Linked DNA regions of Homo sapiens: region 1 is linked to region 2. Evidence: fine-mapped expression QTL. Tissue or cell type: skeletal muscle. Region 2 holds a variant in brackets; the other region holds the start of a gene. All regions are shown on one strand. Distances are from middle to middle.

Region 1 (8,146 bases), 23 kb before region 2:
CCCTGTCTCTACTAAAAATACAAAATTAGCTGGGCGTGGTGGCACATGCCTGTAATCCCAGCTACTCAGGAGGCTGAGGCAGAAGAATCGCTTGAACCCGGGAGGCGGAGGTTGTAGTGAGCCAAGATCGCGCCATTGCAGTCCAGCCTGGACAACGAGCAAAACTCCGTCTCAAAAAAAAAAAAAAAAAAAAAAGAAAAGACCTACTGGGCTGCATTCCCAGACAGTTAAGGCATTTTAAGTCACAAGACGAGATAGGAGGTCGGCAGAAGATACAGGTCATAGGCCGGGCACGGTGGCTCACGCCTGTAATCCCAGCACTTTGGGAGGCCAAGGCAGGTGGATCACGAGGTCAGGAGTTCGAGACCAGCCTGACCAACATGGTGAAACCCTGTCTCTACTAAAAATACAAAAATTAGCTGGGCGTGGTGGCGCGTGCCTGTAGTCCCAGCTACTCAGGAGGCTGAGGCAGAAGAATTGCTTGAACCTGGGAGGTGGAGGTTGCAGTGAGCTGAGATTGCACCACTGCACTCCAGCCTGGGCGAGAGTGAGACTCTGTCTCAAAAAAAAAAAAAAAAAAAAAAAAAAAGACACAGGTCATAAAGACCTTGCTGGTGAAACAGGTTGCAGTAGCCTGCCAAAACCCACCAAAACCAAGATGGCGATGAGAGTGACCTCTGGTTGTCCTCACTGCTACACTCCCACCAGCACCATGACAGTTTACAAATGCCATGGCAATGTCAGGAGGTTACCCTATATGGTCTAAAAAGGGGAGGCATGAATAATCCACCCCTTGTTTAGCATATAATGAAGAAATAACCACAAAAATGGGCAATCAGCAGCCCTCTGGGCTGCTCTGCCTATGGAGTAGCCATTCTTTATTCCTTTACCTAATAAACTTGCTTTCATTTTATGGACTCGCCTTGAATTCTTTCTTGTGTGAGGTTCAAGAACCCTCTCTTGTGGTCTGGATTGGGACCCCAGTAACACCGAGATTTTTCTTTCACAGGACTTAAGTAACTAAAATACTCTCAGAAAAGAAAGCAAGGCTATTAAACAGGTGAAATAAATGCTCAGAGCATTCTATAGTAGTGGATAAGTCCTCTTGCAAGAATACATGAATAGACATTTCTTAGTGAAATAGAACAAATCCACAGAGCTGTCTTTTCTAGACAGGTCCATGTTTCAGTTCAAATCCTGACACTTCATAGCTCTTGATAGCTCTTTGTTTCCACCTTTCCTATAAAACTCTTTCCGTATATCATCCCTATATCATGAGTATAGAAGATTAAGTTAAAAAGTGTTGGATTTGCAGTCATTTCAAAGTTATAGAAAGTCATCAGATGGAGCATTCTAAAAAACTACAGATGTCCAGCCTTGGGAAAGAATCTGGGACCTGGGAAGTGACAGTTTTAGAGCCATAACAGTATTAATAATGACATGTATAACAGCTTCAAAAACATTTTGATGTATTTTATCTTATTTGATCCTTTTAACCTGTGGGGTAAGTAGGACGTCTAGTCTTGCCTTGCTTTATAGGCCGGAGGTCCTCAAACTTTAGCTTGCATCAAAACGGCTGGAAGGTTTGTTGCTGTGCCCCACACCCAATTTTCTGAGACTGTAGGTCTGAGGTGAGGCCTGAAAATTTGCATTTCTAACTTATTCCCAGGATGGTGGTCCAGGAACAGTTCTTGGCCATTTTTTAGTCTTTGTGAAGCTGGCTGGATTGTCTTAGTCATGAATTATAGTTCTGCATTGCCCTCAGAATAAAATCTAAATTAGTTGGAATGGCACACTGATCCTGTATGCTGACGCCTATTTACCTCTCCAGCCATTCTGCAGAACTAGTAGTTCTTGACGGAAGCTGTATTCGTTTGCCAGGGCTACCATAATAAAAGTAAACAGATATTTATTTTCTCAGAGATCTTGAGGCTAGAAGTCTAAGATCAAGAGGCCAGCAGGGTTGGCTTCTTCCTAGACCTTGGCTTGTAGATGGCTACTCTCTTGCTGTATCCTCACATGGCCTTTCCCCTGTGTGCACACATCCTTGGTGTCTGTGTGTCCAAATTTCCTCTTATAAATATGACACCAGTCAGACTGGATTAGGGCCCACCCTAATGGCCTCATTTTTACTTAATAATGTCTTTTTTTTTTTTTTTTTAAAAGAGAGTCTTGCTCTGTCACCTAGGCTAGAGTGCAGTGGTGCGATCTCGGCTCACTGCAACCTCTGCCTCCCGGGTTCAAGCAATTCTCCTGCCTCAGCCTCCCGAGTAGCTGGAATTATAGGCACCCGCCACCGCGCCCAGCTAATTTTTCTATTTCCAGTAGAGACAGGGTTTCACCATGTTGGCAAGGCTGGTCTCCAACTCCTGATCTTGTGATCCACCTGCCTTGGCCTCCCAAAGTGCTGGGATTACAGGCGTGAGCCACTGCACCTAGCGTACTTAATCAGGTCTTACGATCATTCTGAGGTACTAGGAGTGAGGGCTTCAACATATGAATGTTGGGGAGATGAAATTCAGCCCATAAACTGGGTGTGGTGGCTCACGCCTGTAATCCCAGCACTTTGGGAGGCTGACGCAGGTGGATCATGAGGTCAGGAGTTCAAGACCAGCCTGGCCAACATGGTGAAACCTTGTCTCTACTAAAGATAACAAACAAACAAACAAAAAAATAGCTGGGTGTAGTGGGGTGCACTTGTAATCCCAGCTACTTGGGAGGCTGAATCGTTTGAACCTGGGAGGCGGAGGTTGCCACTGCATTCCAGCTTGGGCGACAGGGTGAGACTCCATCTCAAAAAAAAAAAAAAAAAAAAAATTCAGCCCATAACAGAAGCCATTTCTTCCCTCTGGCATCATTTGCATATACTGCATATATCGTAGCTTGGACCAATCATGTTAACTCATTTGGACAAAACCATATTTTTGTGATGTAGATGGAGAGGTTGTATCACCTTGTTATAGCCTCATACAACCCAATGTGGAGTTACTGTCCACTGTTTTAGCACCCCCATACCACTCTGTTCATGTTACTTTCATGGTTCTTACCAAGTAACATGAACTTACCCCAACACATTATGGCGTTTGGTGGCTTAACATATCTGTCTCCTGATGCTCAAAAAAACCCATTTTTACTCAGTGTATCCTCATCCTTAGTACTTAGCACAGTATCAGGCTCATCAGAGTTGACAGTCCATAAATACCCGTTGAAATGGATGATCTAATTTTAATCCAAACAGGAGAGGGAAGAACAAACCACACCATGTGCAAATATAATTTCCAGGTATACTGCTACATTAGGTTGAATCAAAAGAAATTAGTGTTTGGTATTTTCAAAATACTAAGCAGAAAACCTCAGGAATTTTACAAAACATATCATCAAAATCTAAAACTATTAATTTCTCATAGTCTTGCTATTCATTTTCTGTTCAACAAATATTTGACACTTACGTGTAGGGCACTATTTAGTACTAAGAGTCCTGGAGCTTGCAAATGTGAACGAGCAAGCTTTGCTTCCTGCTATTAAAGAGATTAATAGTCAAAAGTGGTGACTAGTCATCACTCGCATAATCGGTGAAAACATAAAAGGCGCCCAGTCCAACAGCTTTTCCCACATTCCTCCCCGCCACCCACCTCCAGAAGGAGTCTTGCTTGGTCACCCAGGCTCACTGCAACCTCCGCCTCCCGGGTTCAATCAATTCTTCTGCCTCAGCCTCCGGAGTAGCTGGGATTACAGGTGCACCCCACCATGCCCAGCTAATTTTTGTATTTTCAGTAGAAATGGGGTTTCACCATGTTGGTCAGGCTGGTCTTGAACTCCTGACCTCGTGATCCACCCACTTTGGCCTTCCAAAGTGCTAGGATTACAGGTGTAAGCCACTGAGCCTGGCAGTCACACATTCTTTCAACTGTTTGTTTCCACCTTTATTATAAAGTATTTATAAAGAGGGATCCAGAGTCCCTCACCTGGTTCAGAATCTTGGGTGACCCTTGGCAGGTCACTAACCCTGTGAGCCACAGCCACATTTGTAAAAGTGGGATAATAGTCACACATTGTGAGGTTGTTCACAGTGTTGGCACATGGTAAGGGCTAAGACACTTGATTAGCATAATATTCAAAATTAGAAATTGTACACTATTGTACTCTCTTTCAAAAGGCAAACAGCCTAAAACTGTTTGGAAAAAACAGCTTGTACAGTATATTGTACACTTCCTGTGATAGACTAGTGGACTGATACACCCACTAATGCACAGCAGTAATAGTCCACCTCTTTACACATTATGCATGTTAAGTGACAAAAAAACTCACTTTAAAAGGCCAAATGATAAAAACATCAGCCTTGAGGCTCTTCGATATAGAGTAAATCATATCTTCCTGCAAACCAAGGATTAGTATCATAATACCTGAAAGAGGAAAACTTAATTCTAACATTCAAGAAAATTGGCGGCAGGAATACACCTCGGCTTCTAGTAGTCGGTAGTTTAAAATACAGGAGGAAAAAAAAAAAGTTTGACCCCGACGTGATTCGAACACGCAGCCTTCTGATCTGGAGTCAGACGCGCTACCGTTGCGCCACGAGGTCCTGCTGGGCTGTGGCTCGCGCAGTTTCTTAGGACACCAGTAAATGGCGTTTCTTCCAGGGGTACCAGTCTTTCTCTTCCATTTACTCTCTGCCCCTCCACCCAGTATCTGTCGGACCAGGAGACCGATTCCTTCAGCGTCCAAACTTTCCTGACTGCTAGTCCTCTAACCAAGGCTGGGACGTAACCAGCGGAAGCGGGAGAACGGGGCTTCCCGTTTAGTCGGGTCTCCAGGATCAAAGGAAATTGGCCCTTCCTTTTCTTTACCAAATGATTTCCGTTCTTACCCGCCCTGCCCCCGCCCCGTTAGTCGCGAGACTCCGCCCTCTCTCCCCTCCCCCAACAGGTTCCGCGCGCTGAGTTCGCGACCTCGAGTTGTAATCTGGCGGGGCGCCACTAAGCCGGCGCAGGCCTTCGCAAGATGGCGGCTGGAGGCAAGGGCAGAGGCCTTCAGAGCGTTTTCTTTTTCCCTTTCCTCCCTTCCTGCAAACAATGTAAGGCATTTTCTCTCAGGGGAGGCTTTCACTTCATGGTGGGCATTAAGGTTAAAAGTCACCATTTTGAAGACAGGGTTGTGCACTTAAGGGAGCTGGTTTAGCATATTATGTTTAACAGCAGTGTCCTGTCATTGAATGATACAGAAAATAATAACTGTCGCCAAAAAAGTGCAGCTACACACCTCCCCGTCGGGGAATTGAACCCCGGTCTCCCGCGTGACAGGCGGGGATACTAACCACTATACTAACGAGGAGTCGTTAGGCTGTGTATTTTCTCAGACAGCCCTTCAAGGAGCAGTAAGATCCTTCCAGCGCTCCGTAACCTTCCGCCTGCCCCCGGGAAGTACGAAAGTCCGGTCTCTTGGAGCCGCTGCTTAGGCTTATTGTCCTCTCTGGGCGCTTTGTATTCTTGATGTTGGTGGGAAGAATAAAAGGTGTGGAATATGTGAAGGAAACGCGCTTCCCATGTTAGTGCTAGAGAAGTGTGTGAAAATAGTTTTTCCGAGGCTCTTGACGCGTTCTAAATGATTTAGGTTGCCGTCCTGAGTTTTTTTTTTTTAACTGACCACTGGTATGTGACTTGCGGCTGAGCCTTCCCCTTACAAATTTATACTTTCACTCTGAAGTTCAAGTTCAAGGATAGCATATGGCTGCCAGATGTCGGGGACAGTTAGGGTTGCCACGGTCTCGTGCCTCTTCAAACAATTCATAAGTCTTTTTTTTTTGAGAGGAAGTCTCGCTCTGTCCCCTAGGCTGGAGTGCAGTGTTGCGATCTGGGCTCACTACAACCTCCACCTCCAAGGCTCAAGTGATTCTCCCGCCTCAGCCTCTCGAGTGGCTGGGATTACAGGCGCGCACCACCATGCCTGGCTAATTTTTGTATTTTACTAGAGACGCGGGGTGTGTGTGTGTGTGTGGGGGGGGGGAGGGTTCACCATGTTGGCCAGACTGGTCTCGAACTCGTGACCTTTAGTGATCCACCTGCCTCGGCCTCCCAAAGTGCTGGGATTTACAGGCGTGAGCCACCGCGCCCGGCCAATTCACACACTTTTGTAACACAAAAGCGCCCAATGAAATGACCAGCTGCGGGCAAATGAAATTTTATCAAAATTTTATCAGCCGACTTCTGTTTCGCTCTCTGTAGGTGGCTACAGTTTAACTGGAAGTGACAAACGTAAGTATGTGAATGGCTAAATAATAATGCGTTTAAATAATTCAAAACCAGGATGTGCCACTGATTAAACATATGGGTTAGGAAAGTGCACTAATCGGATAATTTGATAATTTGTGTCATCCTAAACCCGTTCATAGACAGGATGAACCCTCTTCCCAGGGATACTAAGAGAGCCTTATATGTAAACTTTTTTTTTTGAGACGGAGTTTCACTCTTGTTGCCCAGGCTGGAGTGCAGTGGTGCGATCTTGGCTCACTACCACCTCCGTCCCCCGGGTTCAAGCGATTCTCCTGTCTCAGCCTCCCGAGTAGCTGGGATTACAGGTGCCCACAAACACGCCCGTTCAATTTGTGTTTCTAGTAGAGATGGTAATTCACCACGTTGGTCAGGCTGGTCTCGAACTCCTGACCTAAGGTGATCCACCCACCTCGGCCTCCCAAAGTGCTGGGATTACAGGCGTGAGCCACCGCGCCTGGCTATAAACTTTTGATTTTCTCTAAAGGAGTGTGTTTATAGGCACAGATAAACTGACATGATTGAAAGCGTTTCATTATAGAACTTAAACTTACGTGTCTCGTCTCCGACCCAACCAATCAGGACTCCCAACTCACTGACCCCTACCCAACAAATTATCCTTAAAGATAATAAAAATAACAACAACAACAACAACAACAACAAAAACCCCACATATGTGTCTTAAGGAATCCCTTGTTTCTAGTGTGCTACGAATTAATGTATTATCCATCATAAATTATAAGGTATTTTTCATCTGATGGAAGGGATAATTTTTTTAATGCAGATATTAAACAAATGGCAGTTTCTGAGGCTTGTTTTGGCTTTTCTTTCTTTTTTGCTCTCATTATTATTATTATTATTTGAGACGGAGTCTTGCTCTGTCGCCCAGGCAGGAGTGCAGTGGCACGCTCTCGGCTCACTGCAACCTCCGCCTTCTGGGTTCGGGCGATTCCTCTGCCTTAGCCTCCCGAGTAGCTGGAACTACAGGCGCACGCCACCACTCCCTTTTGTATTTTTAGTAGAGTCGGGGGTTTCACCATGTTAGTCAGGCTGGTCTCAAACTCCTGACCTCAAGTGATCCACCCGCCTCGGCCTCAAGCGGCCGCGCTCAGCCCTTTTTCACTCTCTCTCTCTTTTCTTTTTTTGAGACGCAGTTTTGCTCTTGTTGCCCAGGTTGGAGTGCAATGGCACAATCTTGGCTCACTGCAACGTCTGCCTCCCGAGTTCAAGCGATTCTCCTGCCTCAGTCTCCCAAGTAGCTGGATTACAGGCATGTGCCACCACAGCCAGCTAATTTTGTATTTCTAGTAGAGACAGTTTCACCATGTTGGTCAGGCTGATCTAGAACTCCTGACCTCAGGTGATTCACCCGCCTCGGCCTCCCAAAGTGCTGGGATTACAGGCGTGAGCCACCGCGCCCGGCCCCTGTTTCACTCTTAACTACACCGAAAGCCTCAATACAAACTCTCAGTGTGTGGGAGCCTCCTTCCACTTTGATCCTCCAAAAACTTTTGCCAGGGCCAAAGGGCACTGTGATAGCTATGATGACGTCCTTTTCCTAGTAAAATCGAAGGGACTTCCCCAAGTCTCTCAGTTCGTAGAGCTATGGGGCAGTGAACCCAGTTCTCCTGAATCAACTGTTTGCCCCGTGTTCTGCACTCTCGGGAAAAGCAGCTTCATCTCTTCCTTTAGAAGAGACATCCTTTCCACTGAAGCTCTCGTAAAGCTATGCCAGTGCTCACACACGTGTTGTTACTGCTCCTTTTTCATCCCTGGTGAAAGTAAGAGGCAGTCTGAGTCAGTGAGATCAGGGAGCAGGGAACGCAGCACTTGCTGTCCATCATCCGAAAATGGAAAGGAAAAGAGAGGGCAATTAACCT
Region 2 (8,188 bases):
TAAATTCGTTTCTTGGGGCTTGGCACATTGCCACTTGAACAAATGGATTCTATTAACAAGGAGTATGGAGCAATGATTTTGGGGTACACAACTCATGGCGCCTGCCAAAACATGCGCTTTAGATTTTGATAGATATCGTCAAGTTGTTCTCCGCAGGGGTTGAGCCAGTTTACACTCCCACCAGCAATATGTGAGAGCATCTGTTTCTCTAACCTTCACCCACATGGTGTTATCAAAATTTTTATCTGTGCCAATCTGGTATTTTAAATTTGCATTTTCTTTATTATGGAAAGATAGAGCATACTTTCATATGTTTAAAAGCCATTTGAAATTTCTAAGAACTGTCTGTTCATATCCTCTGCCCATTTTTTTTTTTTCAGTGAATTACTGGTCTTTTTCTTATCAATCCATAGGAATACAAATAGTTGTTCCAAGCTTTTCATGCCTTTTGAGTTTGTTTCTGGTGTTGTTACTAAGCAGAATTTAAAACATGTATTTATATTTAGCTTCTTTCGTTTTATTGCATCTATATTTTGCATCATGCTTAGAAAGGCTTTCCCAGATTGTAAAATAATTCTCCCATATTTTCTTGTCTTACTTTCAAGTTTTCATTTTTTTCACATGTAAGTCTTGATCTATCTGAAATTTATTTTGGTGTAAGATTTGAGATATGAATAAAATCTAATATTGTTTATTGAATAGCTCATCTTTTCCCCACTGGTGGAAACTCTAAAGTGTTCCTGATATTCAGAGACTATTTCCTATGAAACTTTTAACACTCTAGTAAATTCTAAGGAAAGAAACTCAAGGACAAAGCAGTCAGGATGGAATTTTATTTTATTTTTTTGTTGTTGTTGAGACAGAGTTTTGCTCTTTTTGCCCAAGCTGGAGTGCAGTGGCATGATCTCGGCTCACTACAACCTCCGCCTCCCGGGTTCAAGCGATTCTCCTGCCTCAGCCTCCCAAGTAGCTGGGATTACAGGCGCCTGCCACCACGCCTGGCTAATTTTTTTTTTTTTTTGGTATTTTTACTAGAGATGGGGTTTCACCATGTTGGCCAGGATGGTCTCGATCTCTTGACCTCGTGATCCGCCTGCCTCGGCCTCCCAAAGTGCTGGGATTATAGGCATGAGCCACTGCGCCCGGCCGGATGGAATTTTAATTTGTAGTTTCATGTCTTGCATTTCCTCAATTTATAATAACGCTATCTTTTATTAAGCATTTATGTGTTAAGCATAATACCACAGAAGACTGTATAAAAATACAGAGAGTTTATAGAATAATGGTAAAATGAACACCTGTGTACCTGTTATCCAGATGAACATGTAAAACTTTGCCAGTGACTTGAAAATCCTCTGCGTGCTCTACTTTAATCATCATCTTCTTCTTCCTCCTCAAGAGATAACCACTATCCTGATTTTTTGATAATTATTTCTTGCTTTGCTTTATAGTTTTACCACCTATATGTATCCTTAAATATTAGATTGTTTATTTTTTGTATTTGATGAGAACAAAAAATATCTTTGTTGTTGTTATTTTGAGAGTCTTGATCTGTTGCTCAGGCTGGAGTGTAGTGGCACAGTCACATCTCACTGCAGCCTTGACCTCCCAGGCTTCAGCAGTCCTCCCACCTCAGCTCCTCAATTAGCTGGGACTACAGGCATGCACCGTCATGCCCGGCTAATTTTTGTATTTTCTTTTTTGGTAGAGACAGGGTTGCGCCACGTTGCCCAGGCTAGTCTTGAACTCCTGGACTCAAGTGATCTGCCTGCCTCAGCCTCCCAAAGTGCTAGGATTACAGGTGTGAGCCATGGCTCCTGGCCTTATATTGCTTATTTTTGACAACTGAGTGGCAAGCCCAACCATTGCAGCAGGCTCTCAAAAGATAAGCTCTGGGTCACGTTCAGTGGCAGCGTTCCTGAGAGAATGCAAGAGCTCCTTTTGGGAAGTCTGCGGTCAGGGTCAAGAGTGAGTTCTGGGAAACACAGGATATATCACAGCTGGGACATCTGGCAGGGCTGCAGTTTGGGTCAGGTAATGGATATCTGCGGAAACATAGTCAAGAAGTGGGAGACTCTCTATCTGCAGCTCCCAAGCTCGCCATGGTTTCTTACCTACTTTCAAGAAGAAATCAAAGCAAACCCCTTCTATGGGGTAAGGTGAATTTCCTCAGTTCGTGAAGACAGCAGGTCATGGTGGGTGTGTTAGTCTTCTATTGCCACATAATAAATTATCACCAATGCAGCAGCTTAAAACAACATACGTTTATTGTCTCATAGTTTTTACAGGTGAGGAGCCTGGCACATTTTAGCTGGTTCCTCTCCTCAAGGTCTCATTAGGCTGAAATCAAGACATTGGTTGGCTGCCTCCTCCTCTGGAGGCTCCCCTAGGGAAAGATTCATTTCCAAGGTAGCTCAAGTTGTTAGCAGAGTTCATTTCCTTGCAGGTGCAGCACTGGAGGCTCCTCCTCTCCTCTCCTCCCCTCCCCTCCCCTCCCCTTCCCCCTCCCTCCCTCCCTCCCTCCCTCTCTCTCTCTCTTTCTTTCTTTCTTTCTTTTTTAACAGAGTTTCTCTCTGTTGCCCAGGCTGGAGTGCAATGGCACAGTCTGGGCTCACAGCAACCTCCACCTCCTGGGTTCAAGCGATTCTCCTGCCTTAGCCTCCCAAGTACTTGGGATTACAGGCATCTGCCAACATGCCTGGCTAATTTTTGTATTTTCAGTAGAGACGGGGTTTCACCATGTTGGCCAGGCTGGTCTTGAACTCCTGACCTCAAGTGATCTGCCCGCTTGGCCTCCCAAAGTATTGGGATTACAGGCGTGAGCCACTGTGCCTGGCCTTCACTTTCTTTCTGGCTGTCAGTGGGGACTGCTGCCAGCTCGTAGAGGCTGCTCTCAGGTGGCCCCCTCCACTCAGCATTGGAGACTCTTCCTTATGATGAGTCTCCCTTATGTTGAGTCTCCCTTGTGCTTAGAATCTCTCTGGCTTTCTCTTCTGCTACCAGCCAGAGAAAATGCTCTTAAAATGCCTTTAAAGGGCTCATGTGATTAAGTCAGGTTTACCAGGATAATCCTTTGTCTTAAAGTCAACTGATTAGTCGCCTTAATTACATCTACAAAACTTTGTGTCATGCAAGGTGACATAAACCTACTCATAACTAGGGGGTGGAGATTATGGAGGTCATTTTAGAATTCTGCTTGTCATGGTGAGGAGAGCAGAAACTCCATTGGTACATAGTCAAGATGTGCCAAGCACAGACAAAATCTAGGTCAGATTCACCAGGCCTCAAAAAGATGGTCCAATGGCAAAGGGTATCTTCGAGATGGCTCCTGTGATGTCTGCATCTTGTGTCACATTGCTCCCATCTGGATTGACTGTCCTCTGCATCTGACACATAGCTGTCATTCAAGGACCTCTTTTTATCATCCTCCTGAGGACCCTTTTTATTTCTCTCGTGTTGGATTGCTTCTTTCTTGCATCTCATTTCTTCCTCTTTACTCTTAATTCACACTCTCTCTTGCTTTCGTCTTATTCTGGTGGAGTCAATCTTCTTGAAATTTCTTGAGAATGGGTACACGGAAGTTAACTTTTTCAGACCTTTTATGTCTAAAAAACTTTTTTTTTTCTTTTTCTGTTTTTTTTTTTTTTT[G/TG]AGACGGAGTCTCACTCTGCCACCTGGCTGGAATGCAGTGGTGCGATCTTGGCTCACTGCAACCTCCACCTCCTGGGTTCAAGTGATTCTCCTGCCTCAGCCTCCCAAGTAATTGGGATTACAGTCACCCACCACCACGCCTGGCTAATTTTTTTTGTATTTTTAGTAGAGACTGGGTTTCGCCATGTTGGCCAGGCTGGTTTTGAACTCCTGACCTCAGGCAATCTGCCCACCTTGGCCTCCCAAAGTGCTGGGATTACAGGTGTGGGCCACTGTGCCCAGCCAAAAAAAACCTTTATATTTTTATTTTTAGAGATAGGGTCTTGCTCTGTCACCCAGGATGGGATGCAGTGATGTGATCATAGTTTATGGTAACCTTGAGCTCCTAGGCTCAAGGGATCCTCCTGCCGCAGCCTCCCAAGCAGCTAGGATGACAGGTGTGAGCCACCATGCCTGGATTCAATTTTATGTTTATACTTGATTGATAGCTTAGCTGAGAATATAATTCTAGTTGGAAGTTATTAGCCCTCAAAATTTTGAAGGCATCATTTCACTTTCATTGTGCTGGATTGTCTGTTGTCCAGCTATACCTCTCCATTATCCCTTCTAGAGTCCGCTCTGCATTAAAGAAGAGAAACCTGTAGTTACATGTGACAGAATCCCCTCCTTCATTTGATTCCAAGTTGGAGTTTGCCAATGAGAGGCACTTGTGTGAGAAGGAAAGCAGAAAAGAAAAACCATTATTCAACAGAGGCAGTTGAAGGCAGACACATGGGCTGAAGGCAAAATCTTGAGAGTTTCCTGTTTTGGTGCTGTCAGCAGCTGGGATTGAAGGCAGTGTCTTGCCTTAGATTGCTGAGATTTTTCCATGGCTTGCAGGTGAAGTTATGTGAATCACTGACTTCTACTGGCTGCTCTCCTGACCATCACATCCTCAACACTTAGTTTTATTTTATTTTATTTTTTTTTGAGATAGAGTCTCACTCTGTTGCCCAGGCTGGAGTGCAGTGGTGCGATCTCGGCTCTCTGCAACCTCCGCCTCCCGGGTTCAAGTGATTCTTCCACCTCAGCCCCCTCAGTAGCTGGGCTTATAGGTGCATGCCACCACGCCTGGCTAATTTTTGTATTTTTAGTAGAGACGCGGTTTCACCATGGTGGCCAGGCTGGTCTCAAACTTCTGACCTCGTGATCTGCCCGCCTCGGCCTCCCAAAGTGCTGGGATTACAGCTGTGAGCCACTGCGCCTGGCATTATATTTTTATTTTTTATTTTTATTTTTTAATTCTTCATGGTTACAAAATGCCTGCTGCAACTGCAAACATCACATCCGTGCATGATGTCTAAATTAGGAAAAAGAGAGTACAGACGCTCTTCTTCATGCATTCGTCTTATTTTATGAGGACCATAAATTGTTTTAAAGTTAGACCAGAGTGATTGGGCAAATTTATATACCTACCTGATGCCTACCCTAAATCACAGCAAAAGGAAAGGGAAACCATCAGGATTAATTAGCTGGGGCTGGGGGAAGAGCATATTTCTGCCTATGCCTGCACAAGTTGAAGCTCTTTGAGCAAGAAATAATGGGAAATGGCTGTCAAGAAGGCAACCAACTCTGTCTGCCATGTTCCTCATGTAAGGATACCGCATGTAACATGGCAGACTGTTGATCAGTGGACAACCAGTAGGAAAAATAAGATTTTAAAAAGTGTTCTAAATGCCTCACAATTATGTAATGTCATTTAATCCATCAGTAGGAGAGATGACGAGGATGACATTTTATGAGAATGAAATATCTGACAGGAATTAGCAAAAGTTTCAGAGTTTGGCCTTAGGAATAAAGTGAAGACAAAAGAATAAGAATTTGATTAAATTCACAGTTAGAACCAGATATATTACATTAATATTAATAGCAAAGGAAGCAAAGAAAGAAAATATATCCAAAGGGTAAAATGTATATTTGAAGTGTTTTGGGATTTCTACTCATGAAAGAAATGCTTCTCAGTTGGGGGAAAAGTCAGCAGACCTCTCTATGTAGCTGACGAGTTTAGCTAGTCCTGCTACTTTTGATGAATTATTAGAAGACTCACCCACTTAGAAAAAGTGTGTGCATTTAAAACAAATCATTAATAATGAAATTGATTGTAGCTTGTGAAAAACAGAACAAACAGATCTCTGTACTTCTGCTTGAAATATTAGTTCCTGAGTTTTGAAGAGATTGTGCCAGTCAGGTTATTAGTCCCATGTAACAAAACTTTGGCTAGTTAAAGCAGAAATAGGCCGGGTGCAGTGACTCACGCCTGTAATCCCAGCACTTTGAGAGGCTGAGGTGGGCGGATCAGGAGGTCAGGAGATCAAGGCCATCCTGGCTAACACGGTGAAATCCCATCTCTACTAAAAATACAAAAAATTAGCCAGGCGTGGTGGTGCGTGCCTGTAGTCCCAGCTACTCGGGAGGCTGAGGCAGGAGAGTTGCTTGAACCCAGGAGGAGGAGCTTGCAGTGAGCCGAGATCGCGCCACTGGACTCCAGCCTGGGTGACAGAGTGAGACTCCACATCAAAAAAAAAAAAAAAAAAAAAAGAGAGAAATACAATTTATTGAGGTCTAACTTAAAGCTCACAGAAACTCTGGGAGGGCCAGAATTAGGCTTGGCAGCTTGACAGTCAGAAACAAATGACTTGGTGGATACAGCAAAGATTTCATTACAGTGTCTGTCACTGAAGACCCTGTTAGAACACCCTCCCCTCCACTGCTGTCTGCTGTGAAGACCTTCATGGGAATGGCACCTCCACTGGAGCGCTCCCTGGAAGCATGGGTTCTGTGCACTGCCTGTTTTCTCATACTGTTCTTCTGCAAATTGAATCTTCATATGGGTGTATCTGGGTAGTAAGGCTTGTGCCACAAGTCAGCATGCCAGCTGCAAGAAGGGCTGAGAAGTCCAGTTTCTGATTTCCACCTTTGATGGTGAGACTTATAATGTGGAGAATTCCCCAGACATGGGAATTCTGAGCAAAAGATGCTGATATGATTTGGCTCTATGCCCTCACCCAAATCTCATCTTGAATTGTAATTCCCAATGTTGGGGGAGGGACCTGTTGGGAGCTGATTGGATCATGGGGGCAGTTTCCCCCCTTGCTATTCTCATCATAGTGGGTGAGTTCTCACAAGATTTGATGGTTTAAAAGTGTGTAGCACTTCCCCCTTTTCTCTCTCTCTCTCCTCTGCCATAGTAAGATGTGCTTCCTTCCCCTTCACCTGCCGTGATTGTAAGTTTCCTGAGGTCTAGTCATGCTTCCATACAGCCTGTGGAACTATGAGTCAATTAAACCTCTTTCTTCATAAATTACCCAGTCTCAGTTCTTTTTTTTTTTTGAGATAGGGTCTCACTCTGTCGCCCAGGCTGGAGTGCAGTGATGAGATCTTGGCACACTACAGCCTCTACCTCCAGGGCTCACGCGATCATCTTGCCTCAGCCTCCTGAGTAATTGGGACTACAGGCATGCATCATCATGCCCTGCTAATTTTTGTATTTTTTGTAGAGATGGGGTTGCGCTATGTTGCCCAGGCTGGTCTTGAACTCCTGGGCTCAAGCGATCCTCCCACCTTGGCCTCCCAAAGTGCGTGTGGGTAGTGGGTGATCAGGTAGTTCTTTATAGCAATGTGAGAATGGAACAGACTAATACAGCATCTGTGAATAGAACACATGTCAAATTGAGTAACAAACAGGCTTAAGAGCATGGAGTCAGGTATACCTTAGTTCAAGTCCAGCCCCATAGCTTCCCACCTGAGTCATTCTGGGTAACTTCTCTACCTTCGTAAGCCTGTTTCATCATTTGTAAAATATGTATGATAATAGTGGCTACATCACAGGGGTGCTGTTAAGATTAAATGAGATAGGCCAGGCACGGTGGCTCACATCTGTAATCTCAGCACTTTGGGAGATCAAGGCAGGTGGATCCGTTGAGTCCAGGAGTTTAAGACCAGTCTGAGCAACATGGTGTGACCATGTATCTACAAAAAATAAAAAAATTAGCTGGGTGTGGTGGCATGCACCTGTAGTCCCAGTTACTTGGGAGGCTGAGGCAGGAGGATCACTTGAGGCCATGAGTTCGAAGCTTCAGTGAGGAATGGTTGTGCCACCGCACTCTAGCCTGGGTGATAGAGACCCCGTGTAAAAAAAAAAAAATTAAATGAGATAAAGCATAAAGCACTTAACCTAGTGCTTGGCGTATGGTGAATAAGTCACTGATTACAAACTTATATTACTATTATTATTGATCTTCTTATTGGTATTGTTACTGGTGTTTATGTAGGACAATCAAAGCTGATGATATAAAATGTAACCATTATAGTACATTAGGTAGTTTTTGTCCCAGAAATTACAGTTTGGGAATTAAATTCAGAGCTCCCTTTTCTGGTTTAAAAAAGCCAAGAAGGATTAGTACTAATATTCTGATAATTTATAAATGCCTCTCTCATACTCACCATCTTCCTACATCTTCCTCCTGCTTTATCTGTTTTCCATTACAATCACAGAATGCCA

Which allele goes with the higher level. Alleles are on the strand shown, and positions count from the first base shown. SD is a standard deviation of normalised expression in the study named.
For the expression in skeletal muscle of the gene that starts at base 4,979 in region 1, G is the low allele of the variant in region 2 and TG is the other (moderate effect, 0.63 SD a copy in FUSION).

Evidence for each region. PIP is the estimated chance that this variant, and not a neighbour inherited with it, causes the effect.
Region 1: it holds the start of LINC02453, and the variant in region 2 is fine-mapped to the expression of LINC02453 in skeletal muscle (FUSION, PIP 0.95).

Annotation. Positions count from the first base shown.
Region 1 is chr12:98,500,688-98,508,833 of GRCh38, reverse strand. It overlaps LINC02453 (long intergenic non-protein coding RNA 2453), which reads left to right and starts at 4,979. Exons shown (of 4, transcript NR_038383.1): 1 at 4,979-5,074; 2 at 6,222-6,251. It overlaps TRD-GTC1-1 (tRNA-Asp (anticodon GTC) 1-1), which reads right to left and starts at 5,331; the gene lies at 5,260-5,331. It overlaps TRW-CCA4-1 (tRNA-Trp (anticodon CCA) 4-1), which reads right to left and starts at 4,582; the gene lies at 4,511-4,582. RefSeq lists enhancers at 1-465, 4,622-4,921, 4,932-5,241.
Region 2 is chr12:98,478,049-98,486,236 of GRCh38, reverse strand. LINC02453 (long intergenic non-protein coding RNA 2453) reads left to right here. Exons shown (of 4, transcript NR_038383.1): 4 at 1-693. Among named protein-coding and RNA genes, the nearest start is that of TRD-GTC1-1, 21 kb to the left of the region's middle. The variant G/TG (reference allele first, on the strand shown) is at 3,649.